Homo sapiens: one gene and its partners. The protein of the gene in region 3 purifies or fractionates together with the protein of the main gene of each other region. This does not show direct contact. Each region holds a gene or a part of one and is shown on either strand. Other genes may lie near its edges.

Evidence for each region.
Region 1: the proteins of CDHR4 (region 3) and EDEM2 purify together in Homo sapiens (affinity purification with mass spectrometry; one large-scale study listed by BioGRID and IntAct). This does not show direct contact.
Region 2: the proteins of CDHR4 (region 3) and PON2 purify together in Homo sapiens (affinity purification with mass spectrometry; one large-scale study listed by BioGRID and IntAct). This does not show direct contact.
Region 4: the proteins of CDHR4 (region 3) and CLSTN1 purify together in Homo sapiens (affinity purification with mass spectrometry; one large-scale study listed by BioGRID and IntAct). This does not show direct contact.
Region 5: the proteins of CDHR4 (region 3) and TMEM67 purify together in Homo sapiens (affinity purification with mass spectrometry; one large-scale study listed by BioGRID and IntAct). This does not show direct contact.
Region 6: the proteins of CDHR4 (region 3) and RGL3 purify together in Homo sapiens (affinity purification with mass spectrometry; one large-scale study listed by BioGRID and IntAct). This does not show direct contact.
Region 7: the proteins of CDHR4 (region 3) and METRNL purify together in Homo sapiens (affinity purification with mass spectrometry; one large-scale study listed by BioGRID and IntAct). This does not show direct contact.

Annotation. Positions count from the first base shown.
Region 1 is NC_000020.11:35,126,837-35,130,336, reverse strand, and holds part of EDEM2 (ER degradation-enhancing alpha-mannosidase-like protein 2 isoform 1 precursor), read left to right. Parts: intron 1-3,500. UniProt on the Homo sapiens protein: Involved in the endoplasmic reticulum-associated degradation (ERAD) pathway that targets misfolded glycoproteins for degradation in an N-glycan-dependent manner.
Region 2 is NC_000007.14:95,421,529-95,425,028, forward strand, and holds part of PON2 (serum paraoxonase/arylesterase 2), read right to left. Parts: intron 3,058-3,500; coding exon 2,987-3,057; intron 2,161-2,986; exon of another isoform or gene 1-2,160. UniProt on the Homo sapiens protein: Capable of hydrolyzing lactones and a number of aromatic carboxylic acid esters. Has antioxidant activity. Is not associated with high density lipoprotein.
Region 3 is NC_000003.12:49,797,074-49,801,168, reverse strand, and holds the start of CDHR4 (cadherin-related family member 4 precursor), read left to right. Parts: upstream 1-1,295; 5' UTR 1,296-1,350; coding exon of another isoform or gene 1,351-1,356; coding exon 1,357-1,405; intron 1,406-1,731; coding exon 1,732-1,922; intron 1,923-2,012; coding exon 2,013-2,175; intron 2,176-2,251; coding exon 2,252-2,343; intron 2,344-4,095. UniProt on the Homo sapiens protein: Cadherins are calcium-dependent cell adhesion proteins. They preferentially interact with themselves in a homophilic manner in connecting cells; cadherins may thus contribute to the sorting of heterogeneous cell types.
Region 4 is NC_000001.11:9,817,466-9,820,965, forward strand, and holds part of CLSTN1 (calsyntenin-1 isoform 1 precursor), read right to left. Parts: intron 1-3,500. UniProt on the Homo sapiens protein: Postsynaptic adhesion molecule that binds to presynaptic neurexins to mediate both excitatory and inhibitory synapse formation.
Region 5 is NC_000008.11:93,796,394-93,799,893, forward strand, and holds part of TMEM67 (meckelin isoform 1 precursor), read left to right. Parts: intron 1-740; coding exon 741-840; intron 841-937; coding exon 938-1,077; intron 1,078-3,224; coding exon 3,225-3,365; intron 3,366-3,500. UniProt on the Homo sapiens protein: Required for ciliary structure and function. Part of the tectonic-like complex which is required for tissue-specific ciliogenesis and may regulate ciliary membrane composition.
Region 6 is NC_000019.10:11,412,815-11,416,314, reverse strand, and holds part of RGL3 (ral guanine nucleotide dissociation stimulator-like 3), read left to right. Parts: intron 1-166; coding exon 167-378; intron 379-3,500.
Region 7 is NC_000017.11:83,082,609-83,086,108, forward strand, and holds part of METRNL (meteorin-like protein isoform 1 precursor), read left to right. Parts: intron 1-2,329; coding exon 2,330-2,715; intron 2,716-3,500. UniProt on the Homo sapiens protein: Hormone induced following exercise or cold exposure that promotes energy expenditure. Induced either in the skeletal muscle after exercise or in adipose tissue following cold exposure and is present in the circulation.

The DNA of each region.
Region 1 (3,500 bases), on a different chromosome or scaffold from region 3:
GTGCTTTGGGAAGCTGAGGCGAGAGAATTGCTTGACCCCAGAAGTTCAAGATCAGCCTGGGCAACATGGTGAGACCTCGTCTCTACAAAAAATAAAAAAAAATTTGCTGGGCATGATGGTGCGTGCCTGTAGTCCCCACTACTTGGGAGGCCAAGGTGAAGGATTGCTTGACCCTGGGAGGTCAAGGGTGCAGTGAACCGTGATCATACCACTGCATTTCAGCCTGGGTGACAGAGTAAGACCCTGTCTCAAAAATAAAAATTTTTAAAAATTTAATGAATTAAGAATTCTCATAGATGTGTATGTATAGGAAAACAGTAGTCACGCATTGCTTAATGACAGGGATATAGTCTGAGAATTGCATCGTTAGGTGATTTCATCATTGTGCAAACATCATAGGGTGTACTTAAGCAAACCTAGATGGTATAGCCAACTACACACCTAGGCTATATGGTGTAGCCTATTGCTCCTAGGCTACAAACCTGTACAGCATGTTACTCTACTGAATACTATAGACAATTGTAATAGAATGGTAAGTATGTATATAAACATAGAAAAAGTACAGTACAAATACAGTATAAAAGGGCACATGAATGAAGTTCACAGGACAGGAAGTTGCTCTGGGTGAGTCAGTGAGTGGTGAGTGAATGTCAAGGTCTAGGACATTACACTATTGTAAACTTTATAAATACTGTACACTTAGGCTATACTAAATTTATTTAAATTTTTTTTTCTTTCTCCAGTAATAAATTTTTTTTTTTTTTTTGAGATAGAGTCTTGCTCTGTTGCCCAGGCTGGAGTGCAGTGGCATGATCTTGGTTTACTGCAACCTCTGCTTCCCCAGTTCAAGTGATTCTCCTGCCTCAGCCTCCTGAGTAGCTGGGATTACAGGCGCCCACCACCATGCCTGGCTGATTTTTTTTTTCTTTAAAGACAGAGTCTCACTCTGTTGCCCAGGCTGGAGTACAGTGGTGCAATATCGGCTCGCTGCAACCTCTGCCTCCCGGGTTCTAGCAATTCTCCTTCCTCAGCCTCCCGAGTAGCTGGGATTACAGGTGCACGCTGCCATGCCCAGCTAATTTTTTGTATTTTAGTAGAGATGGGGTTTCACTGTGTTGCCCGGGCTGGTCTTGAACTCCTGAGCTCAGGCAATCCACCCGCCTCGGCCTCCCAAAGTGCTAGGATTACAGGCGTGAGCCACCGTGCCTGGCCTAATTTTTGTATTTTTAGTAGAGATGGATGGGTTTTCACCATGTTGGCCAGGCTGGTCTCAAACTCCTGATCTCAGGTGATCTCCACCCACCTTGGCCTCCCAAAGTGCTGGGATTAGAGGCGTGAGCCACCATGCCTGGCCTCCAATAATAAATTAACGTTAGCTTACTGTAACTTTTTTACTTTATGAACTTTAAAATTTTAAAAAACTTTTTGACTCATTTGTAATAATGCTTAGCTTAAAACACATTGTACAGCTATACAGAAATATTTTATTTATATCCTTATTCTCTAAGTTTTTTTCTGTTTTTAGTTTTTTATTTTGTTTTCACCTTTTAGACTTTTTTGTTAAAAACTAAGCTACAAACACACATTAGCCTAGGCCTAGGGTCAGTATCATCAATATCACTGTCTTCCACTTCCCCATGTTATCCTGCTAGAAGGTCTTTGGGGGCAGTAACACTCACAGAACTGTTGTTATCTCAGATGATTGATAACAATGCCTTCTGGAATTCCTTGAAGGACCTGCCTGAAGCTGTTTCATTTTTTTTTTTTTTTTAGACAGAGTTTTGCTTATGTTGCCCAGGCTGGAGTGCAGTGGCACCATCTCGGCTCACTGCAACCTCCGCCTCCCAGGTTCAATTCTCCTGTGATTTTCCTGTCTTAGCCTCCTGAGCAGCTGGGATTATAGGCACCCACCACTACGCCCAGCTAATTTTTGTTTTTGTTTTTATTTTTTTTGGAGACAGAGTCTTGCTCTGTTGCCCAGGCTGGAGTGCAGTGGTGTGATCTCCGCTCACTACAAACTCCACCTCCCGGATTCACGCCATTCTCCTGCCTCAGCCTCCCGAGTAGCTGGGATTACAGGCGCCCGCCACCACACCCAGCTAATTTTTTTGTATTTTTAGTAGAGATGGGGTTTCACCGTGTTAGGCAGGATGGTCTAACACTGACCTCGTGATCCGCCCACCTCGCCCTCCCAAAGTGCTGGGATTACAGGTGTGAGCCACCACGCCCAGCCGACTTTTTTTATATAAGAGGAAGGAGTTATCTAATGATAATAATATAGTAAATACATAAACGCGTAAATGGTTGTTTATTAAATATCACGTACTATACATAATTGTATGTGTTATACTTTTATGACTGGCAGCACAGTAGGTGTGTTTACACCAGTATCACCACAAACAAGTAAGTAATGCATTGCATTATAAAATTACAACAGCTGTGATATCTTTAGGCTGTGGTGATTTTTCACCTCTATTATAATTTTATAGGACCACCATCTCTACAGTTCAGTGTTGACCAACATGTTGTTATATGGCACATGACTGTATATAGAGTTTATTTAGTACTATCCATGGTTTCAGACATCCACTGAGGGTCTTGGAACGTATTCTCCTCACATAAGGGGGGACTACTTTACTCATTTATTCAACAAATATTTATTGAATACCACGGATGTACCAAGCATTGTGCCAAGCTCTGAACATGGACTGTTTCATATAATCCTTACAACTCCTGTTTGAGATTATCTTATTTATTTGCATGTATATTTGGTACTTTGTTCATTCAGAAAATGTTTATTGCTCATTGTACTAGTGTGGGGGATTCTGCAGTAGACAAAACAAAGTCCCAGGCCTCATGGATTTACAATCTAGGGGAGAGATATGAGGGATAAATTCAAGTTCCTACTAGAATGTAAGTTCTCTGAAGGCTGGATTTTGTCTTGTTTACAAACTCATAGGAGCCTGGAACCTAGTAGGTGCTTAGCGAATGTTTGTGGTATAAATAAATGACTGAAAAATTCCACAGATACCTAACATTACTGTATTAGACCATTTTCACTGCTGATAAAGACGTACTCAAGACTGGGTAATTTATAAAGAAAAAGAGGTTTAATGGACTCACAGTTCCACATGGCTGGGGAGGCCTCACAATCGTGGCGGAAGGCGAAAGGCACATCTTACATGGTGCAGGCAAGAGAGAATGAGAGCCAAGTGAAAGGGGAAACCTCTTATAAAACCATCAGATCTTGTGAGACTTATTCACTACCATGAGAACAGTATGGGGGAAACGGCCCCCATGATTCAATTATCTCCCACCAGGTCCCTTCCACAACACGTGAGAAATATGGGAGCTACAATTCAAGGTGAGATTTAGGTGGGGACACAGCCAAACCACATCAATTATTTTCTGCTTTTTTCTTTTTGAGATGGAGTTTCACTCTTGTTGCCCAGGCTGGAGTGCAATGGTGCGATCTCAGCTCACAGCAACCTCCGCCTCCT
Region 2 (3,500 bases), on a different chromosome or scaffold from region 3:
AGGCAAGATGAAGCTGCTAAGTTACTTGGGACTCTTGAACTGTCTGCATGATCCAGCACAGATGTAGTCAATCTGCTATTTGATATGAGTTTGCCTCCTCCCACTTAGTGTTTGGGCAATTGAAAGAAGGAAGGGAAATTCCAGGACAGCCAACCAGTCTAGGGGAGGGGAGGTAGAACTGGGGAAATACAAAAGTATCAATGAAAAAAAGGAGAAAGAACACATAGGAAACAGATGCCTAAGGAATGAGAGGCAGATCAACCTGAGGAAGCTGATTTAAAAGAAGAAAAAAAGAAAGGGAGGCAAGCAAGGTATTTGTAGAGAAACTCTGAAGGTGGCACTGTCAACTGATGGTTTATTTTTACTAAAAGAGTGCTGAGAACTCTGTCTGGAGTGAATGTGGTTACAACTATGAGGTACTGAGTTTATTACTGTTGCCAAATTGAGAGCAACTTAGCAATGACTGTCAAAACTCTAAACACATATTCTAAGGGAACAACAATCCCATTGTTAAGGACATATTCTACAGACACACAAACTCAACAGCAATGATGTTCACTGATTTGTTCATAGTTGCAAAAAACTGTAACAACCCAAATGTACATTAAAAGGGGAATGGTTAAATAAATCATGGAATGTGAAAATATTAAAAAGAACAAAGTAACTATATATGCTGATGTGGAAAGCTGCTCACACTGTTTTAGGAATGAAGAAGGTTGTGAAATATTTACACTAAAATTCTATTTGTGAAAAAAAGAGTCAATATATTTGTTTGCAAATGCACTGAAACTATCAGGAAAGATAAAAAAGGGAGCTTTATCTTTGGGGTTATTTCTGTTGGGGGTGATGAAGAGTTTGATGAGAGATTTTTATTTTTATTTACTTTCCATTTTATATCTTTCTATATTGTTTGCACATACACTGTTTATATGAACTTTGCACAAAAAATACTGTGCAGTTGTGAAGAAAAGGTAACATTATGTACAAACATAAGTTTCCAAAACCTAGTATTAAGTACAAAAAGCTAGTTTTGAAATATTATGCATAATTTGACCTCACTTATGTTTTTAAAAATTATGTACAGGAGTATTCATAAAAAGAAAAAGATGGAAGGACACTCAAAACTTGTTTAACAATGTTACCTATTCAGAGAAGAGAACATTTCCATGTAACCCGAGTTTTAATTTCTAAAGAGTAAAACAAAATATTAAATTGTCTCTCCTACCTCTAGAGAAGGATGTTGTTGTAAAGGACTAGAAGTGACTCAATGACAGTCTAGTTATTTCCACACTGTGGCTCTCAGAGTAAGATTATAAATAAATGGTCCCAGGCTTTTTAAAGTCTAAAAACCATTAGTCTAATCACAAACTCATCATTATAGGTGACAAATACAAAAACCAACTTTGCCTAAGGTTACATTGTGGCAGAATAGAACTAGAAACTAGGTGTTTTGACTGCTAATTCTTTTTGTTTCTAATCATACCATGAACCATATCTAAGGAAAGCCAATATTGGCTGGGCTCAGTGCCTCATGCCTGCAATCCCAGCACTTTGGGAGACCAAGCTGGGAGGATTGCTTGAGGCCAGGAGTTCAAGACCAGCCTGGACAACATAACAAGACCCTGTCTCTACAAAAATAAAAAACTAGCCATGAGTGGGGGCATGTGCCTGTAGTCTCAGCTACCTGGGAGGACGAGGCGGGAGGATCGCTTGAGCCCAGGATATCAGGGCTGCAGTGAGCCAAGATTGCGCTACTGCATTCTGGCCTGGGTGACAAAGTGAGGCCACCTCTCAAAAAAAAAAAAAAAAAAAATTAAAATTTAAAAAAAAGGAAAGCCAATATTTATTGTTCATTGATAATCTAACTACTAGTCTATTATGTACTAGGGACATGTACTTAGTAGATGATAAAGGGTAAAAGACAGCAAGACACAGACTCTACCTTGGAGAAAAACTGCAAACACACCAGAGAGACCCTCAGTGCTGGAGAAGAATCTGGACAGATCCCTCCTTATCTATAGCAAAATTGGGGCTTGCTCTTAGGAACCCCTACTCAAAGACTCAGACTCCACAATACATCCTACATAAAGTCAAGGGAAGAGGGAGACTCCCCCTCTGCAGTCATAGCTTAGAAGATAAAATAAAAACAAGTTTTTACAATACATATTGTGAAGTGCCGGTACATCAGTCCGTTCTCAGGCTGCTAATAAAGACATACCTGAGACCGGGTAATTTATAAAGGAAAGAGGTTTAATTGACTCACTGTTCCGTGTGGTTGGGGAGGCTTCAGGAAACTTACAATCTTGGTGGAAGGGGAAGAAAACACACCCTTCTTCACATGGCGGCAGCAAGGAGAAGTGCCGAGCAAAAGGGGGAAAAGCCCTTATAAAACCATCAGATCTCATGAGAACTCACTCACTATCACGAGAACAGCAGCACAGGGTAACCACCTCATGATTCAATGACCTCTCACTGGGTCCCTCCCACAACACGTGGGGATTATGGGAACTACAATTCAAGATGAGATTCGGGTGGGGACACAACCAAACCATATTGGTCAGTTACGTGTTAGCCATAAGATCAGATCCTAGTTATAGAGTAGTGAGCAGGGTAAATGCTGTCACTGCCTACATAAAGCTTCCTTCACTAGCTGACCACAAGGCTCACAGAACACAGACTGCAGCGGCCATACCTGACAAACAATACAGACGCAACAAAAATAGTTCAGAGAAGTCACAAAACAAGCAAGAAATCAAATGCTAAACATAGAATTACACACAAAAAAGAATAATTTACAGTGAGGGTAGGAAAGAAGAATAAATACAGGGTTCATCAGATCAAGAGGTTGACCAAAGAGGTTTTTGTTGATCTAATGTGATTTATCCACTGAAAAGCAGTAATTTCATGCTAAAATGCCATTAATGAGTGTTTTAATGTTAATGGCCAAAAAATGCAATGTGCCCAACAAGCATTTTCATATACATACCAATTCCTTTAATCAGGTGGCAGTGTGGAAGGTCTACAGATTCTACTTCTCTGGAGGCTTTAAGTCGATTTCTGTTACAAAGAAAAAAAAACAAAAAACAAAAAACTATTTGTTTATGTATTCCCTGCTTTGTTTTAGAAAGGGTTTAAAGAGGCTTACAGCAATACATAAAACACAGTTTAAGTCTAAAGCAGATGAAAGAGAAAATAGAAAGACAAGGGTAGGAAAATAAAACTGCACCAGAAATGAAGTTAAAACAAAAATGCCTATTGCAAAGTTCTATATACTGATGTGGGTTATTAAAAAAAAAAAGCCAATAACTCAACAAATAAAACTTATAATGCAAGTTCCTATGCAAATGTAAACACAGCACCATGTCACATTTCTCAGTGTTGGTGTTGTGGGAAAAGAGTTCCAGATGTAGAACCAGTAGCCCTGTCTTCCTTCTGAAGAGTCAAACGTGAAAAATGACTGTAAGCCTCACACAGAGACTGCAAAGAAGCCAAGAGAAAAT
Region 3 (4,095 bases):
TGACAAGGGCAGTTTTGTGTAGAGAGGGACAAGCCTGATTAGAGTGTGTGGAGAAGAGAGTGAGGACTGAAGAACTGGAGATGGCAAATAAAGACAACCGTTTTTGTTTTTTTTTTTGAGACAGGGCCTCACTCTGTCACCCAGGCTGGAGTGCAGTGGCATGATCTTGGCTCACTGCAGCCTCCATCTCTGGGGCTCAAGTGACCCTCCTATCTCAGCCTCTCAAGTAACTGGGACTACAGGCATGTGCCACCACACTCAGCTAATTTTTTTTTTTTTTTTTTTTGTAGAGACAGGGTTTCACCATGTTGTCCAGGCTGGTCTCGAACTCCTGATCTCAAACGATCCTCCTGCCTCAGCCTCCCATACAGGCATAAGCCACCGTGCCTGGCCAGAAAACTTAAAAAAACTGACATATAAATACAATAAATAGACAGATCTCAAAGTTACAGCCCAGTAAATGTTAAAATCTGTAGACACTTGTGCAGCTGCCACCCAGATATAGAACATCCTCAGCAACTCCTGGATGCCACCTGGTGCCCTATCCAACTGATATTCCCAACGGTAACCAGTATTTGTATTTCTATCATAAAGGATTCCTTTTGCTTGTTGGATGTAGACAACTTTTTTTTTCTTTTTTCTTTTTTTTTGAGACAGGGTCTTGCTCTGTCACTCAGGTTGGAGTACAGTGGCACAATCATGACTCACTGCAGCCTCGATCTCTTGGGGTTCAAGCAATCCTCCTACCTCAGCCTCCAGAGTAGCTGGGACTACAGGCCTGGATCACCACACCCAACTAATTTTTTGTAGAGATGGGGTCTCACTTTGTTGCCCAGGCTGATATTGAACTCCTGAGCTCAAGTGATCCTCCCACCTCAGCCTCCCAAAGTGCTGGGATTACAGATGTAAGCCGCCACACCCAGCAAGTTTTGAGAGATTTTGTTGACGGTTGGGCTCATTTTTTATAGGCAGATAATGTTCTAATGGAGGGGGTCCAGCTGGAGTTGAGACTCTGTGGGGTAGCAGGTCCTGGGCCAAATTTTCCTGGGTGCTGTGCTTGCTCTATCTCCACGGATTGCATGACCAGTTTCCTCATCTGAACCTTAATCCTCCTCCCCTTCCATGCCCTTAGAGTTGTAATGAATGGGGGCAATGGAAAATGGGATATTCTGAGCCTCTGGAAGCCTGCCAGAGGTCTAGAACTCAGTCACCAGGGATGGGTGGGGATAGAATCTGGGAGGCCCAGGAGTCCCGCCTGCCCAGCTATGTTTGAGCAACTGACCTGGCAACAGGGTGAGTCAGACAAACAGCCTAGCTTTCTGAAGCCTCCTCTGCTGTCTGTGTCTTCAGGTCATCATGGTGCTGCTCAGGCTCCTCGTGTTCCTCTTTGCTCCGGTGGTCTCTGGTGAGGAGGTGGTGGGTGGGGGAACCGTAGTTTTCCCTTGGAGTCCTGACCCTTCCCAGATAAGCTACCATGGAGGACAGGGATTGGGGGAGAGGTAGGAAAGTGTAAGAATCTGAACCCCTGGCCCTCACCCCTTCTCTTGGCCACTTCCTCAGTCAAGTTCTCACTCCCCATCTGTGAAATGCTGGATGCTGGATACAAGGAAAGGCCTTAGCTGCTTGGCCCCATGGCATGGCCAGGCCCTGTGGCAAAAGGACAGGACTATGCTAGTATGTGTGGTTCCATCAGCCTGGGGGCCTCCAGCCTGAATTCTCTGCTCTTCACAGACCTCTGCAGCCTGCCCTGCTTTATAAATGTCTCTGAGAGCCAGGGCCCTGGCACAGTCCTTCAGTTTTTATCCTTCAACTGCTCCTCCTACACGCCCACACCCACCCTGGAGTTGCTCAATGTCCAGCCACCCACCACCTTCTTCAACCCACCCAGCTTGGCCAGGTGGCAAGGGACCTATGTGGGCAAGGTAGGGTCATGTGTACAGCTGGGGACTGTGGGGGCACAAGGGCAGACCTAAAATTTCCAAGCCCCACATGGCACTGTCCACCCACCCCAGTTGACCTTGAGCAGCTCTGCTCAGTTGGATGCCCTGATGGTGAACCACTACAAGGTGCAGCTGAAGTTCACATGTGGCAACCATGTGATGGAGGGCTCACTCTCTGTGGATGTGCAGCGGGACCTTAGCCATATCCAGTGTGCTGGTCAATTTGCCAGCCCAGGTGAGGCCAGGGGCAGCCGGCAGGGTGGGGGCAGGCATGGCCTGAGCAGATCCTCCCTGACCTCCACTCTGGCCAGCTGGGGAAATGATTCAGGTGCCAGAGACAGTCACACCTGGGGCTCGGCTGTACACTCTGCTCCTCCCAGGCCTAGAACTCCACGGAGCGCAGGTAAGCCCAGAACATGGGACGGTGGGTGACAGGATGGGGGTGGGGGGATGGAGAGAATAAATTAACCCCCACCTGGCCAGGCACAGCCTGAAGAGGAACCTTGCAGCAGAGGCATAGATGAGCCTCTACATGATGTATGTTCTTGGAGAGAGCTGCTGAGGGCTGCTCACTCCCCAGTGACCATGGCTGTTCCCACAGGGACATCTCAGGGGCTGAGTTCTTTTTTTTTTTTTTTTTTGAGACGGAGTCTTGCTCTGTCGTCCAGGCTGGAGTGCAGTGGCGCGATCTCGGCTCACTGCAAGCTCCACCTCCCAGGTTCATGCCATTCTCCTGCCTCAGCCTCCCGAGTAGCTGGGACTACAGGCACCCGCCACCACGCCCGGCTAATTTTTTTGTATTTTGTAGTGGAGACAGGGTTTCACCGTGTTAGCCAGGATGGTCTCGATCTCCTGACCTCGTGATCTCCCCACCTCGGCCTCCCAAAGTGCTGGGATTACAGGCATGAGCCACCGCTCCCAGCCAGGGGCTGAGTTCTTTCAAGATCTGCTATGTGTTCTCAGTTCTTTATGACAATTCTGTATCATTTCTGTAATCAAAAAAAAAAAAAAAACAAACATGTAGGTAATGGCCAGGCACGGTGGCTCACACCTGTAATCCCAGCACTTTGAGGGGGCTGAGGCAGGTGGCCTCAGGAGTTCGAGACTAGCCTGGCCATCATGGTGAGACTCTGTCTTTACTAAAAATACAAAAATTAGCCAGGTGTGGTGGCGTGTGCCTGTAATCCCAGCTACTTGGGAAGCTGAGGCAGGAGCATCGCTTGAACCCAGGAGGTGGAGGTTGCAGTGAGCCAAGATTGTGCCACTGCTCCAGGCTGGGTGACAGAACAAGACTCTGTCTCAAAAAAAAAAAAAAAAAAAGTATTTAAAAACAGTAACTGGCTTGAAAGCAAAAAGGATTGAGGACTGCGGCCAGGGCTTGGGCTAGAAGTCAGGGAGCCCAGGCTGGGATAAGGGTCAGTGGTGAAGCATGAGAAAACTGGGTGTCAGGCTGGGCACAGTGGCTCACACCTGTAATCCCGCATTTTGGGAGGCCGAGGCGGGTGGATCACTGGAGGTCAGGAGTTCGTGACCAGCCTGGCCAACATGGCGAAACCCTATCTCTACTACAAATACCAAAATTAGCCAGGCGTGGTGGCGGGCACCTGTAATCTCAGCTATTCGGGAGGCTGAGACTGAAGAATCACTTGAACCCAGGAGGTGGAGGCTGCAGTGAGCCAAGACTGAGCCATTGCACTCCAGCCTGGGCAACAAGAGTGAAACTTTGTCAGAAACAGGAAGGAAGGAAGGAAGGAAAGAAGGAAAGGGAAGGGAGGGAAGGAAATTAGCCGGGTGTGGTGGCACAGGCATGTAATCCCAGCTATTCAGGAGGTTGAGGCCGGAGAATCACTTGAACCCAGTAAGTGGAGGTTGCAGTGAGCTGAGATCGCACCACTGCACTCCAGCCTGGGCGACAGAGAGAGACTCTGTCTCAAAAAAAAGAAAGAAGGAAGGAAGGGAGGGAGGGAGGAAGAGAGAAGGAAAGAAAGAGAGAAAGGAAGGAAGGAGAGAGCGAGAAGGAAAGAAAGAAAGGAAGGAAGGAGAGAGAAGGAAAGAAAGGAAAGAAGGAAGGAAGGAAAATAAATTGGGTGTAGGCAGGTGCCTGCTGGGTTGCTGGAGGGTTGCTGCTGGGTTGTCGATGGGGGTGCTCAGGGCA
Region 4 (3,500 bases), on a different chromosome or scaffold from region 3:
TACAGGCATGCGCCACCACACCCGGCTAATTTTATATTTTTTAGTAGAGATGGGGTTTCTCCATGTTGGTCAGGCTGGTCCCGAACTCCTGACCTAAGGTGATCCGCCTGCCTCGGCCTCCCAAAGTGCTGGGATTACAGTTGTGAGCCACTGCACCCAGCCAACTTTCAGATGTTTTATAGGCATTTAAGCTGCTTTAAACTCTGCTACTTTGAAGTACGTGAATCTCTGCCAAGAATCTTTAAAAATAAAAACTTTAGTAACAGATCTTGTGAAAATTTTTAATCTAATAATAATATCCTAAAGCTAAATCAAAAAATGAGCAAAAATATACCTAAAACATAGGAGAGAAAGAACCTATCAAATCAGGGACAACTGAAAGCAGCATTCTAGTTCCCGGGTGGTGGCAGCTCTTAGGGAAAAGACGGGTATTGTATGTCAGGCTGACACAGTGGGGAGGCTGTCGCCATTTAAGGGTTCCTATATATGGCCTTTGCATAGCCTCAAAATGTCACTTTTGAGGGTCTGTTAGTTTGGCTTTTTTTTTTTTTTTTTTTTAGAGACAGAGTCTTGCTCTGTCGCTCAGGCTGGAATGCAAGTGGTGTGACCTTGGCTCACTGCAGCCTCAACCTGCCAGGCTCAATCAGTTCTCCAGCCTCAGCCTCCTGAGTAGCTGGGACTACAGGCATATGCCACCATGCCCAGCTAATTGTTTTGTATTTTTAGTAGAGATGGGGTTTCACCATGTTGCACAGGCTGGTCTCGAACTCCTGGACTCAAGCAGTTCACCCATCTTGGCCTCCCAAAGCACTGGGATTACAGGTGTCAGCTACCATGCCTGGCCGTTTGGGTTTTTTTTTGTTTTTGTTTTTGTTTTTTCCTGAGACTGAGTCTCACTCTGTCGCCAGGCTGGAGTGCGGCGGTGTGATCTCGGCTCACTACAACCTCCGCCTCCCGAGTTCAAGCAATTCTCTTGCCTCAGCCTCCCAAGTAGCTGGGACTACAGATGCATGCCACCATGCCCAGCTAATTTTTGTATTTTTAGTAGAGACAGGGTTTCATCATGTTGGCCAGGATGGTCTCCATCTCTTGACCTCATGATCCACCCACCTTGGCCTCCCAAAGTGCTGGGATTACAGGCATGAGCCACCGCGCCAGGCCTTGGTTGTTTTTTAATGCACGAACATGACATTGCATAAATAATTTCCACCAATCTTGAATCTGTAGTCCTGAAACACTACTAAAATCCGTATTTTGTAGCAAATCAACATTTTAAATTTCACTTATAAAGACATATTTCTTCAAGCAACTCTTTTTTTTTTTTTTTTTTTTTTTTTTTGAGACGGAGTCTCACTCTGTCGCCCAGGCTGGAGTGCAGTGGCGCGATCTCGGCTCACTGCAAGCTCCACCTCCCGGGTTCACGCCATTCTCCTGCCTCAGCCTCCCGAATAGCTGGGACTACAGGCACCTGCCACCACGCCTGGCTAATTTTTTGTATTTTTTTTTAGTAGAGACAGATGGGGTTTCACCGTGTTAGCCAGGATGGTCTTGATCTCCTGACCTCGTGATCCACCCACATTGGCCTCCCAAAATGCTGGGATTACAGGTGTGAGCCACCGCACCCGGCCCCTTCAAGCAAGTCTTCACACCAAATTAAGACCCACTAAAAAAACAAGTTTTAATGATCTAAGCCCTCAACCAGAATACATAAGAAATAGACTCTTGGCGGTTTTTTAGGATAATCAGATCTCTATTTTGTTTCAACTCTTATAAATGAAAACTACCCAAAAAAATTAAAAAACATACTTTCCTGTCTCAGAAAGCAATAATAAAAATAACTCAGTACTTTTTTTCCTTTGTTCTAAAATTTTAACCTATCTCAGCTTCCTCATTTTAAACATTTAGACTTGGTTTAATAAGCTTCACTAAGTCCTGCAGCTAGTGTTACGAAATTACAGCATTTTCTATTTTCAATGTAATATTTTATATCCCACAAAAATTTCATTTTTTGGTCATATTCTTCATAACTAAAACTGAAATATTATTTGCGTTTTTGGCTTGAATATCAAATACTGGCACAGATAATGTATGTTATGACCTCCTAAACCTTCCTTTTGAAAAATAATTCCTATAAAACTGCTTGGTTTCATGCTTTTTCTCCCAAAAGAAATATCCAGCCAAAGGACGAATTCCAGCTAACTGAAGGTTCCAGTTAACCGAGTGAATGCTCTAAAATTGGAATATATTCAAAATTGTTCGTATTTTATTATTTCTTCAGCAGTTATAGGTCTCCTTTGAGAAATAAATGTTATTTACTTTCAGTATTAAAAATGTTAGACTATGGGTAATACTGAGGTCTATATTCGAACGACTTTTTTCCACATCGTTACTTCTGAAAAAACGAGGTAACAAATTAAGAAACCATCTTCCCAAAAAAGCTGAAAATTATAGTATTTTTAAAGGGACTAACAGGGGTAGCCACAGAGCTACAGCCTTCAAAGGCTGAGACAGAGTTTCATGATCTAATATCCCCAATACTGCAACCAACAGAATTGATCCTTGAACTTTTTTTTTTTTTTTGGTATTTTTGTAGTGACAAGGTTTCACCATGTTGCCCAGGCTAGTCTCAAACTCCTGGGCTCAAACAATCTGCCTGCCTAGTTCTCCCAAAGTGCTGGAATTACAGGGGTGAGCCACCGAGGCTGGCCCCATGATCCTTGAAAATTTACCCACTAATGAATTCCCATATCGACACTGCAGAATTTAAGTTTGGGCCGGGTGCAGTGGCTCACACCTGTAATCTCAGCACTGTGGGAGGCAGAGGCAGGCGGATCACTTGAGGTCAGAAGTTCAGACCAGCCTGGCCAACATGGTGAAACCCTGTCTCTACTAAAAATACAAAAATGAGCCCAGTGTGATGGCATATGCCTGTAGTCCCAGCTACTGGTGAGGCTGAGGCAGAAGAATCTCTTGAACCCGGGAGGCGGAGGTTGCAGTGAGACAAGATCGCGCCATTGCACTCCAGCCTGGGTGACAGAATGAGACTCTGTCACAAAAACAAAAACAAACAAAAAAAAAACTTAAGTTTGCTTTACACTATGTAATTTTTTTCAGTATATAGCATTTATCTGTAAAGTGAAAATTAGGATGCAAAGCTACTACGCTGTCTAAACTGAAATGCTGTTATCCATCCACCCATTCATTCATTCAATCACACAATACTGGCATGCCTCTGGTGTGCTGGTGACGGGAAACATATGCAAAGCAGATACCCTTCCATCTTGGGGCATATGTTCTACTGAGGGGAAACAGACGATAAACAATTCAATAAGTAAACAACAAGGCATGTTAGAATGGGCTAAGTGCTATGCAAAAAGAAAAAGTGTTGCAGGGAAACAGGATTTAGGGGTTCAGGAAGAGAAATTATTTCAAATAGGATGGTGAGGGGAGGTCTCACTAAGCCTATGTGCAAATGGAAAAGTAACAGTGAATTTTATGTA
Region 5 (3,500 bases), on a different chromosome or scaffold from region 3:
CTTTCTTCCTATGGCCCCCCAATCCCCAACTCAGTGTTCTCCATCAATGTAGGTGAATCTCTTTATATGCCTGTTGGTAGTCCTTATCCTATTTTACTGTGAGTGTTAAGTGTCTGCTTTTTCCACTGACTGGGAGCTTCTTGAGGTGAAGTATCTCATACTTAGATTTTTATCCTTTATTTGATGAATAATGCAGCAACTAGAAAGAATGCCTCAGTTTAAACATATTGCTTGTATAAATAAGAAAGATGTGTTTCAACAGCACATTCTTTAAAAATCAGAAATCTGAATAGCAGAAATAGAAAAAAAAGACAGTAAGAGCATTCGAAAACTTTAATTAGGAAAAACAAACTATAGTTGAAAATATCTTTACTTATAAAGAAGTCAGCTGATCTACAAAACAAAGTGTGCTTCTAGAATCTTTGGGAAAGAGTCAATTATATAAGTCCCTATGTGAGGAGGAGGAAAAATGTCTCCTCTTTTCATATTCCTATTTTAAAGAAAGAAAGAAAAAGGGAAGGTAAATTAAGATGTATATGAAAATTCTGTGAATTTGATGATTCCAGGTTATCTGATGAGCTTCTAATGATTCCTTAGTGGTATTATAACTTCATGTGAATTCACTCATAAAATTATATGTTCTTGTGATAACAGTATGTTTCTTAAAGAGTCAATATTGGTTTTATAAGCAGACTTAACGCTGGTACTTTTTCAGGTGTTTTATTATATGTCATTCTCAGGCACTACAATTTTTGCATAAGCTCATATCCCAGATTACAATAGATGTATTCTTTATTGATTGGGAGCGACCTAAAGGAAAGGTTCTTAAAGCTGTTGAAGGTAACTGAAATAAAAAATATTTGTACCAAAATTCTTTTGCTACCCTTGCAGAGCAAAGGAGGTAAAACTCTTTTACTCATTTTATTTTCCTGACCAGGTGAGGGTGGTGTACGAAGTGCCACTGTTCCTGTAAGCATATGGAGAACATATTTTGTAGCAAATGAATGGAATGAAATTCAGACTGTGAGAAAAATTAATTCACTCTTTCAAGTACTTACTGTCCTCTTCTTTTTGGAGGTATAAACTGTTTGATGTGATTATATGCGACTTACATGTACCTTATAAATATTAAACTAATATAATTCCAACTAAGTTTTCATGACAGTGGAAGATTTCTCTAAAGGTTGAAATATTGTTGTGAAGCCATTAAAAAGGAGTACCTTTATGTTACGTATTTTACCACAATTCTTTTTTTAAGTTTACCATCTTAAGCATTTTTAAGTGTAGAGTTTAATAGTGTTAAGTTGGCCAGGCACAGTGGCTCATGCCTGTAATCCCAACACTTTGGGAGGCTGAGGCAGGCGGATCACCTGAGGTTGGAAGTTCAAGACCAGCCTGGCCAACATGGAGAAACCCCGTCTCTACCAAAAAATACAAAATTAGCTGGGCATGGCGGCACATGCCTATAATCCCAGCTGCTCGGGAGGCTGAGGCAGGAGAATTGCTTGAACCCGGGAGGCGGAGGTTACAGTGAGCCGAGATTGCACCATTGAACTCCAGCCTGGGCAGAAAGAGCAAAACTCCATCTCAGAAAAAAACAAACAAACAAAAAGTAGTGTTACGTACATTCACATTGCCACGCAAAATCATCATCACCATTCATCTTAGAACTCTTCATCTTGCAAAACTGAAACTCTATACCCCTTAAACAACTCTGTACCCATTCCCTGCTACACCTAACCCCAGGCAACCACCATTCTATAATACTTTCTGTCTCTGTGTGTTTGACTGCTCTAGGTGTAAGGAGTAGCTTTAAAACCACTGGTTTGTATCAGAATCCCTTGGGGATCTTTTGTAAAATACCTATGCTCAGGCTCACCCTTAGAGACTATGTGTTGATTTAGTAGCTTTGAGGTAACTCCAGGTATCTATATTTTGAAAAAGCTCCCTACCCCCGATCCATATTCTCCCCTGCATTAGAATCACTATTATAAGTTTGATATTTTTCAACAAATTTGTATTGAACACTTACTGTAGACTATGTTCTGTGCTAAGAGCTGGGGCTACACTGAACAAAACACAACATGTTTGTGATACATATGCAGTTATTTCATGGATTTGGTTGGAATTATTAAAGGAAGTATTCAGTACTGAGTATAAGACTGAACATGGAAACAGTTTATATGGGAATAGGTTTTCTCAGGAATTATCTGCTTAATTAAGATTGAATATAAATCATTAACTCTTAGGTCTGTCTGTCTGCCTTCCCTCTTTTTTCTTCTTTCTTTCCATTCTCTTTCCCCTTTCCCTTCCTTTCCTTTTATAAAACTAGTAGAAGAATGTTTGTATCCCTAGGGCTTTAAAATAATATGAACAAGACTTCCAAAGTTCACTTGAAGTGGTATTTTGGTTTTTCTTAAATGGACAGATAAAAATTACATATGTTTATAGTTTACAATACAGTGTTTTGATATATGTATTCATTGTGGAATGGCTAAATCAAGCTAGTTTATCTGTTACCTCACATCTTTTCTTTTTGTACTAAAGTAGTGTGTGTGTGTGTGTGTGTGTGTGTGTGTGTGTGTGTGTGTTTAAGAGTTTCCTCAGCTTTAAAAGGTGTTATGTGAAAAAGTTTTATGGTCAAGTAAGTTTGGAAAATATTGGATTCAGTATAATCATGTAGCACCTTTTACTGTAAAACTTCTCAGAGCCTTTATTCTACAAGGGTGGGAGGCATGGAGGTGAGTGTAATGGATGGACCAAAAGTATTTAAACATAGATTCTTTTTTCAAGAACTTATGTCCTTTAGAAGACATTTTGTAATATACTGTTTTAAAGTATAAAAATGTTTAGTACAGTGCCTGGCACATGTCAAATACTCATGAAATACTACTTGTTGGTTTCACTCATTGGTAGTTTACTGATGAAAGTTTTATCCTTTTAATTAAATTTTTAGTCTTGTCAGTGTGTATGACAATAAGGTTATATTTGGCCCTTAGTCATATTGAGAAGAATGCCAAATGAGCTAACTAAATATTGTGTAATAAATACTTTGTAGTTAAAATACTATATAATAATTATTTTTATCTAGATTTTCTACTGTTTATACAAACTTAGATATTTTAGTTTTTCAAGGTGAGTAGGGAGAGGTTTTCTGTTTTCAGTCTAGAGTAGTTTTCTTTATCCATGTCCGTTTAAATTACTACTTTTCCTTTTTACTCCAGGTTGTGGGATTCAAGAACTTAGCATTAATGGACTCATCTTCTAGTCTTTCTAGAAACCCACCTAGCTACATAGCTCCTTATAGCTGCATTTTGAGATATGCAGTGTCTGCTGCTCTTTGGCTAGCCATTGGAATTATACAGGTAAGGAATTATACAGGTAATATTACTTCTAAGTAACATTGCTTCTTTATAACTCTGCCTAATTACTGATTATCATCAAATATTGACCACATCCTTCTTTCTGTAGCAGAAAGAAGGTGACAAGAACAATAGCTA
Region 6 (3,500 bases), on a different chromosome or scaffold from region 3:
CTCGGGAGGCTGAGGTTGCAGTGAGTCAAGATCAGGCCATTGCACTGCAGCCTTGGTGACACAGTAAGACTCTATCTCAAAAAAAAAAAAAAAAAAAAGGTACCAGGAGTCATATTCTATGTCCCCCACTCTGGACCCAGCTCTGAGACCCTGCCTCTCTGGCCAGGGCTGTGGTGTCAGTGCTGGGCTCCTGGCTGCAGGACCACCCTCAGGATTTCCGAGACCACCCTGCCCATTCGGACCTGGGCAGTGTCCGAACCTTTCTGGGCTGGGCGGCCCCAGGGAGTGCTGAGGCTCAAAAAGCAGAGAAGCTTCTGGAAGATTTTTTGGAGGAGGCTGAGCGAGAGCAGGAAGAGGAGCCGCCTCAGGTGTGGACAGGTGAGGGGTTTTCAGATCCAGTCGTGTTCTGAGAAGGCCTTTCCTGTCTGCTTCTTCCCACACAGGCTTTCTCTCCCCTCTCAGAGCTACAAAACTTAAGCAAGATTTTAAACTCTAAGCCTCAATTTCTTCATCTTTACAATGGGGATAATAATTCTTTGTCAGCCGGGCGTGGTGGCTCACGCCTGTATCCCAGCAGTTTGGGAGGCCAAGGATGGTGTATCACCTGAGGTCAGGAGTTTGAGACCAGTCTGACAAACATGGAGAAACCCCATCCCTACTAAAAATACAAAATTAGCCGGGCGTGGTGGGGCATGTCTATAATCCCAGCTATTCGGGAGGCTGAGGCAGGAGAATCGTTTGAACCCGGGAGGCGGAGGTTGCGGTGAGTCGAGATCGTGCCATTGCACTCTCGCCTGGACAACCAGAGCGAAACTCCGTCTAAAAAAAAAAACAAATTCTTTGTCTGAAGTATTAGCATGTGTCTAATACTTTTCCCTCCTTGGTGCCGTTGGGTCAGGATGCTCTGTGTTTCTAGCTACAAACCATTGCCTTGATACTTGTCTTTATTTTCTTTTTTTTGAGTCAGGGTCTTGCTCCGTTGCTCAGGCTGGAGTGCAGTGTCTCCATCATGGCTCAGTGCAGGCTCAACATCCTGGACTCAGGTGATCCTCCCGCCTGGGTCTCCAAAACTGCTGGCATTACAGGCGCGAGCCACTATACCTAGCCTGTAAAATTTTTCTTATTTTTGAATTTCTTTTTAAATTTAATTTAATTTAATTTTATTTTTTTATCTATTTTTTTTTTTAGACAGAGTCTCGCACTGTTACCCAGGCTGGAGTGCAGTGGCACAATCTTGGCTCACTGCAACCTCCACCTCCTGGGCTCAAGCCATTCTCCTGTCTCAGCCTCCTGAGTAGCTGGGACCACAGGCGCATGTCACCACGCCCGGCTAATTTTTTTGTAAAGGTGAGGTTGTGCCATGTTGCCCAGGCTGGTCTCAAACTCCTGAACTCAAGTGATCTGCCTGCCTTGGCCTCCCAAAATGCTGGGATTACAGCCATAAGCCATTGTGCATGCGTAGCCTCCTTACTTGATTATTGGCTTTTGCTCATCTCATAGGCTGTGAGTGCATGAGAGGAGGACCTGTTGTTCTTGCTCCCAGCTCTGTCCCCAGGGGCAGGAACAACACAGATTAGTTTGCTGAATAATTGCATCCTGCTTAGGAAGTATCATCTTTCACCCATCTGTATTTGATCTGATCCACATCACAAAAGCATCTCTATCCCTAATCCCCATCGCTTAATCTCCAGATTATAGTGGCCACCTTCCTGTCCAATTTACAAAGTAGCAGCCACTTCTCTATCCCTGGTGACAAAGTCTCAGTTATTTATATATATATAAAGGTATATATATATATATATATATATATATATATATATATATGAAGGTGTATATATATATATATATATGAAGGTATATATATATATGTATATATATGAAGGTATATATATATAAAGGTATATATATATAAAGGTATATATATAAAGGTATATATATATATAAAGGTATATATAAAGGTATATATATATAAAGGTATATATATATATATGAAGGTATATATATATATGTATATATATGAAGGTATATATATATAAAGGTATATATATATAAAGGTATATATATAAAGGTATATATATATATAAAGGTATATATATATAAAGGTATATATATATATAAAGGTATATATATATAGGTGTATATATATATATATATATATATATATATATATATATATATATGATTTCTCCAGCTGATTCCAAGTCATTAGAGCTCCATAGTTCACTGTGGTATCCACTAGCCCCTGTCGCTATTTAAATTAATTAAAATTGGCTGGGCGCGGCGGCTCATGCCTATAATCCCAGCACTTTGGGAGGCCGACGGGGGCGGATCCCAAGGTTCGGAGATCGAGACCATCCTGGCTAACATGGTGAAACCCCGTCTCTACTAAAAATACAAAAAAATATTAGCCGGGCGTGGTGGCGAGCGCCTGTAGTCCCAGCTACTCGGGAGGCTGAGGCAGGAGAATGGCGCGAACCTGGGAGGCGGAGCTTGCAGTGAGCTGAGATCAAGCCACTGAACTCCAGCCTGGGTGACAGAGCGAGACTCTGCCTAAAAAAAAAAAACCAAAAAACAAAATTATAATAATAATTAATTAATTAATTAAAATTAAATAAAATTCAGGTCTTTTCTTTTTAGAGATGGGGTCTTGCCATGTTGCCCAGGCTGGTCTCGAACTCCTGGGCTTAAGCAATCCTCCAGCATCAACCTCTCAGAGTGCTGGGATTGTAAGTGTGAGCTACTGTGCCTGACCCTGCCCTTTTTTTTTTTTTTTTTTTTTTGAGACGGAGCCTCGCTCTGTCACCCAGGCTGGAGTGCAGTGGCGCCATCTCGGCACACTGCAACCTCCTCCTCCCAGGTTCAAAAGATTCTCCTGCCTTAGCCTCCCAAGTAGCTGGGATTATAGGCACCTGCCACCACACCCAGCTAATTTTGTATTTTTATTAGAGACAGCGTTTCACTATGTTGGTCAGTCTGGTCTTGAACTCCTGACCTCAGGTGATCCACCCACCTCGGTCTCCCAAAGTGCTGGGATTACAGGCGTGAGCTACCATGCCTGGCCCGCTTTTTTTTTTTTTTTTTTTCTTTTTCAAAATCCAGTCAAGCAAAGGCAAAAATTCAGGTCTTCAATCCCACTACCCACATTTTGAGTGCTCAGCCACCACACTGGACATAGCAGATAGATAATTTTTCCACCATTGCAGAGAATTATATGGAAAGTGCTGCCCTAGTTTCTTTGAGGTCAGAGGAGAAAATTAACATTTGTTTAAGACCTTCTATGTGCTAGGCCCTGGGACACACTTTATTTCATTTTATTTTATTTTATTTATTTTTACTTTTATTTTATTTTGAGACAGAGTCTCGCTCTGTCGCCTAGGCTGGAGTGCAATGGCGCGATCTTGGCTTACTGCAACCTCCACCTCCTGGGTTCAAGTGATTCTCCTGCCTCAGCCTCCTGAGTAGCTGGTACTACAGGCGCCCGCCACCAGGCCCAGCTAATT
Region 7 (3,500 bases), on a different chromosome or scaffold from region 3:
ATCACAAAATGCCCTCATCCATGACCATTAAAGATAGGTCACATTTTTGCAATGCCAGCAATTTTGCATAAACAGACTCTGTTTTCAGGTTTGCTGAGGTGCTGGATATTTGGAGGTGAGAGATTTGAGGCACTCGATTTTCTGGTAGGAACCAGCACAGACCATGAGTCTCGGACTTCGTGCCGAGGTCTGCTGGGTCCCAGGCTGAAGGATGCATCGTTTAACTTTTTTTGTCTACACGGGTCTTGCGCATCATGTGCTACTGATTTTAATGTGAAAATCCCTACGTCAGCGGGTCTGGTTGGAGTCCCGTTGGTCTGGATGTTTCGGGAGAATGTGAGAGGAGAGGGGAGCAGGCCCTGTGCTGGGTGCAGACCCGTCTGAGTGCGCTGAGAAGACGTCAGGTGAAGGCCGGGGTAGCCGGGTGTCTTCTTTCTTCTGTGTCCACCTTCATTTTGTCCTCTTCCTCTTTTTGCCCAGTGTCTTCTGAGTGGGTGGAGCCAGGCGTGCCCACCAGATGCGGGTAGCATGTGCTAGGCCAGGACGGCCCCCAGGCTCAAGTCGGCCTCCTCCTGGGCAGAGGTGGGTTGGCCGCCTGTCCCCAGCTGAGTTGTGGCTGTTCCCCTCGCCTGCTCAGATGAAGGCAGTGCTGTCAGAGGTGACCAGAGCCCGCTCCCTCGACCTTCAGGACTCCCCGAGAGGGAGGCAACGTGTCAGGACGGTGTATGTGGAGAGAGGGTCGAGGCTCGGTGCCTGAGCACGGGCAGGAGGACAGTGGCCTCGATGCCAGAGACGGGAGGGAGAGACGTGACGATGAGGCTGCATAAGAAGAGAGCTGACTGTAGCTGAGTGTATCAGCCACTCACCGAGTCCAGTTTCCACACAGCACGATCATCGTGCCCTTGCCCACACACGTGTTAGATGAGCTTGTGTGAGCTTTATGGGCTGTAATTTGTGAGTCTGTTCTGGGTGTGTGATCCTGGCAGCCGGCTAGGCCTGGCCACTCGTGACCTGGGGCCTTGTCGGGGTGGGGAGAGGGTGAGGAGGGGTGCACCCTCGACACCACCCTCTGATGTGGCCTGCAGCCTATGAAGAGTGAGGTTTGGGGGCCCAGAGTGTGAGTCACCAGCGGTAAATGCAAACCATATGTGATGCATTTTCTCTGCTGCAGAAAGGGTTTCTGGTGACTCGCTCAGGCCAGGGCTCTGGAAACAGCATTGCTTATTTCACATAAAAATCCTAAGAATGTGGGTGAACCTGTCTGAGATCTGCGTAATAAAACACTTAGTTGAAGTCACCGGGTTAGTTCCAGGCCCACTTGGTTATGACGTGGCTGTTAGCCACGAGCTGGCATTTACGTTAAAGTGTTGAGAAGCGTGAGGGTTTTGATGTTTCAGTTTCTTGAAAATATAACTGTTTCTACTCAGGACCTGCCTCTCCAAGAGTGTAGCACACTTCATTTTTTTCTGTTTAGCATGTATGAGGGTGAACTTAGCTTGCTACTCACACACTACTCACCCTGTGGAGGAAGTTCGCCTCGCTTTTGTGGTGAGTCTTGCTGTAATGATAGCTTATATTTACAAATACCGTCGGCAGTGCAGGGTCTTCAGGCTTGCAGAAAACGGTCAAGTCATTACTTTGAGAAATGTACAAACATCTATGCTTAATGAGGTGCTAAAAGACAAAACTCATCTACAACCTCCTTCCCCCCAAACTGCCAACACTCTGGATTAACTTAAAAGCTGCTCTCTGGGCAGGTTGCATCCCAGGGCTCCTCCTTCACACGTGGTGGGGCCCCACCTTCGCTTTACCTCTAGCGTCCCAGCCCTCGTGGTCATCTGGAACCAGGGTTGGTACACAGGGCCTGCTGGCATTCCTGTGATACTCCGTGATATTCTGGAGGAATCCATCCCTTCCCTGGGGCTCCATCCCACTGCCCCAGCACCTCCAGCCACCCTGATTCAGGGACATCGCAGAGATTGGTGTTTGACGCTACGGCAGCAGAGGCGCAGACTCTTGAGTGTTGGAGGGTGTCTGGAGGGCCTGGGGACAAGCACCGCCTGCACTCCCGGGAGCTCGGCCCCGCCCCACCATGGCTCTTGGTGCAGGTGCACTGGAAGGAACTGGGTGGGGCCCTTGTGCCGAAGGGCGGAGATGGCGCCGGCCTGCCTCACGGGCAGGGGTCCGTGTGGCACCTGTGGCCGGCAGCGGGTGGGTCCAGGAGCCGCCATCATTTGGAGCGGGTATCGTCCTCACTGACTCTCTGTGGGTGCGGGTGGGGTGTGTGACGGGAGCTCCGGGCCTGGCTGACAGTGTCTCTCCTCTGCAGCGGGCTGACGCACGAGGCACACAGGAAGGAGGTGGAGCAGGTGTATCTGCGCTGTGCGGCGGGTGCCGTGGAGTGGATGTACCCAACAGGTGCTCTCATCGTTAACCTGCGGCCCAACACCTTCTCGCCTGCCCGGCACCTGACCGTGTGCATCAGGTCCTTCACGGACTCCTCGGGGGCCAATATTTATTTGGAAAAAACTGGAGAACTGAGACTGCTGGTACCAGACGGGGACGGCAGGCCCGGCCGGGTGCAGTGTTTTGGCCTGGAGCAGGGCGGCCTGTTCGTGGAGGCCACGCCGCAGCAGGATATCGGCCGGAGGACCACAGGCTTCCAGTACGAGCTGGTTAGGAGGCACAGGGCGTCGGACCTGCACGAGCTGTCTGGTGAGTGTCCTGCCTGGGGCGGGGGCGGCGGGCCTCGTCATCACGGGGCTGGTGATGTGGCAGGTGTCTCTGATTTCTTCCTGTCCCCTCGTCTGCTCAGCCTTGGTGAAAACCCTTCTGTGTCTGTGCTTCGGACATGACTGTTTTGCCTGAAGAGCCCCCCAGGTGGCTGGGGTTGGGGGACACTGGCGCCCGCAGAGGGGCCCTCCTAGGGGGTGTGACATGGTGTAGGGGGGTGTGGGATGTCTAAACTAAACCATCTTGGAAATGCAGCCTTTCCAACTAAAACCACCTTTGAAAAGACTGGCCCATCTGGGTTAGTGTTTCGGGCGGCATGGCCTTGGCCGAGCGGGGCCTCTCTCCCTGGAGGTGTGTCTGGGGAGCATGGTGAGCATCCCCCTGTGGCGGCCGGGCCAGTGCTGGGTCGGACGCGCCCCCATGCTTGTGGATCGTGTAGCACCTTTGAAACGGGTGCTTTTGCCATTCAAACTGCCCTGGGAATTGGCTGGGTGTCTGTGGTGTCGGCTAAAGACCCTGAAACGTCCATTTTTGGGTGGGAGCTGAGGCTGGCTCAGCCCTGAGCGGTGCTGAGCTGTGACGCCCAGAACATGGGGCCACCCCCGTCCCAGAGGGGTCTTGTGGGTACGATAAACAGACAGCTTCCCTGTGTGGCCGGCAGGGAGTGGAGGTGTCACGTGGCGTCTCTGGACGCCTGTGCTTGGGGGAGAGGTCCTTCGTGGAGGGCTGTGTTGGTCTCTAGAAAATTCTGTGGGTAGACACCAGGA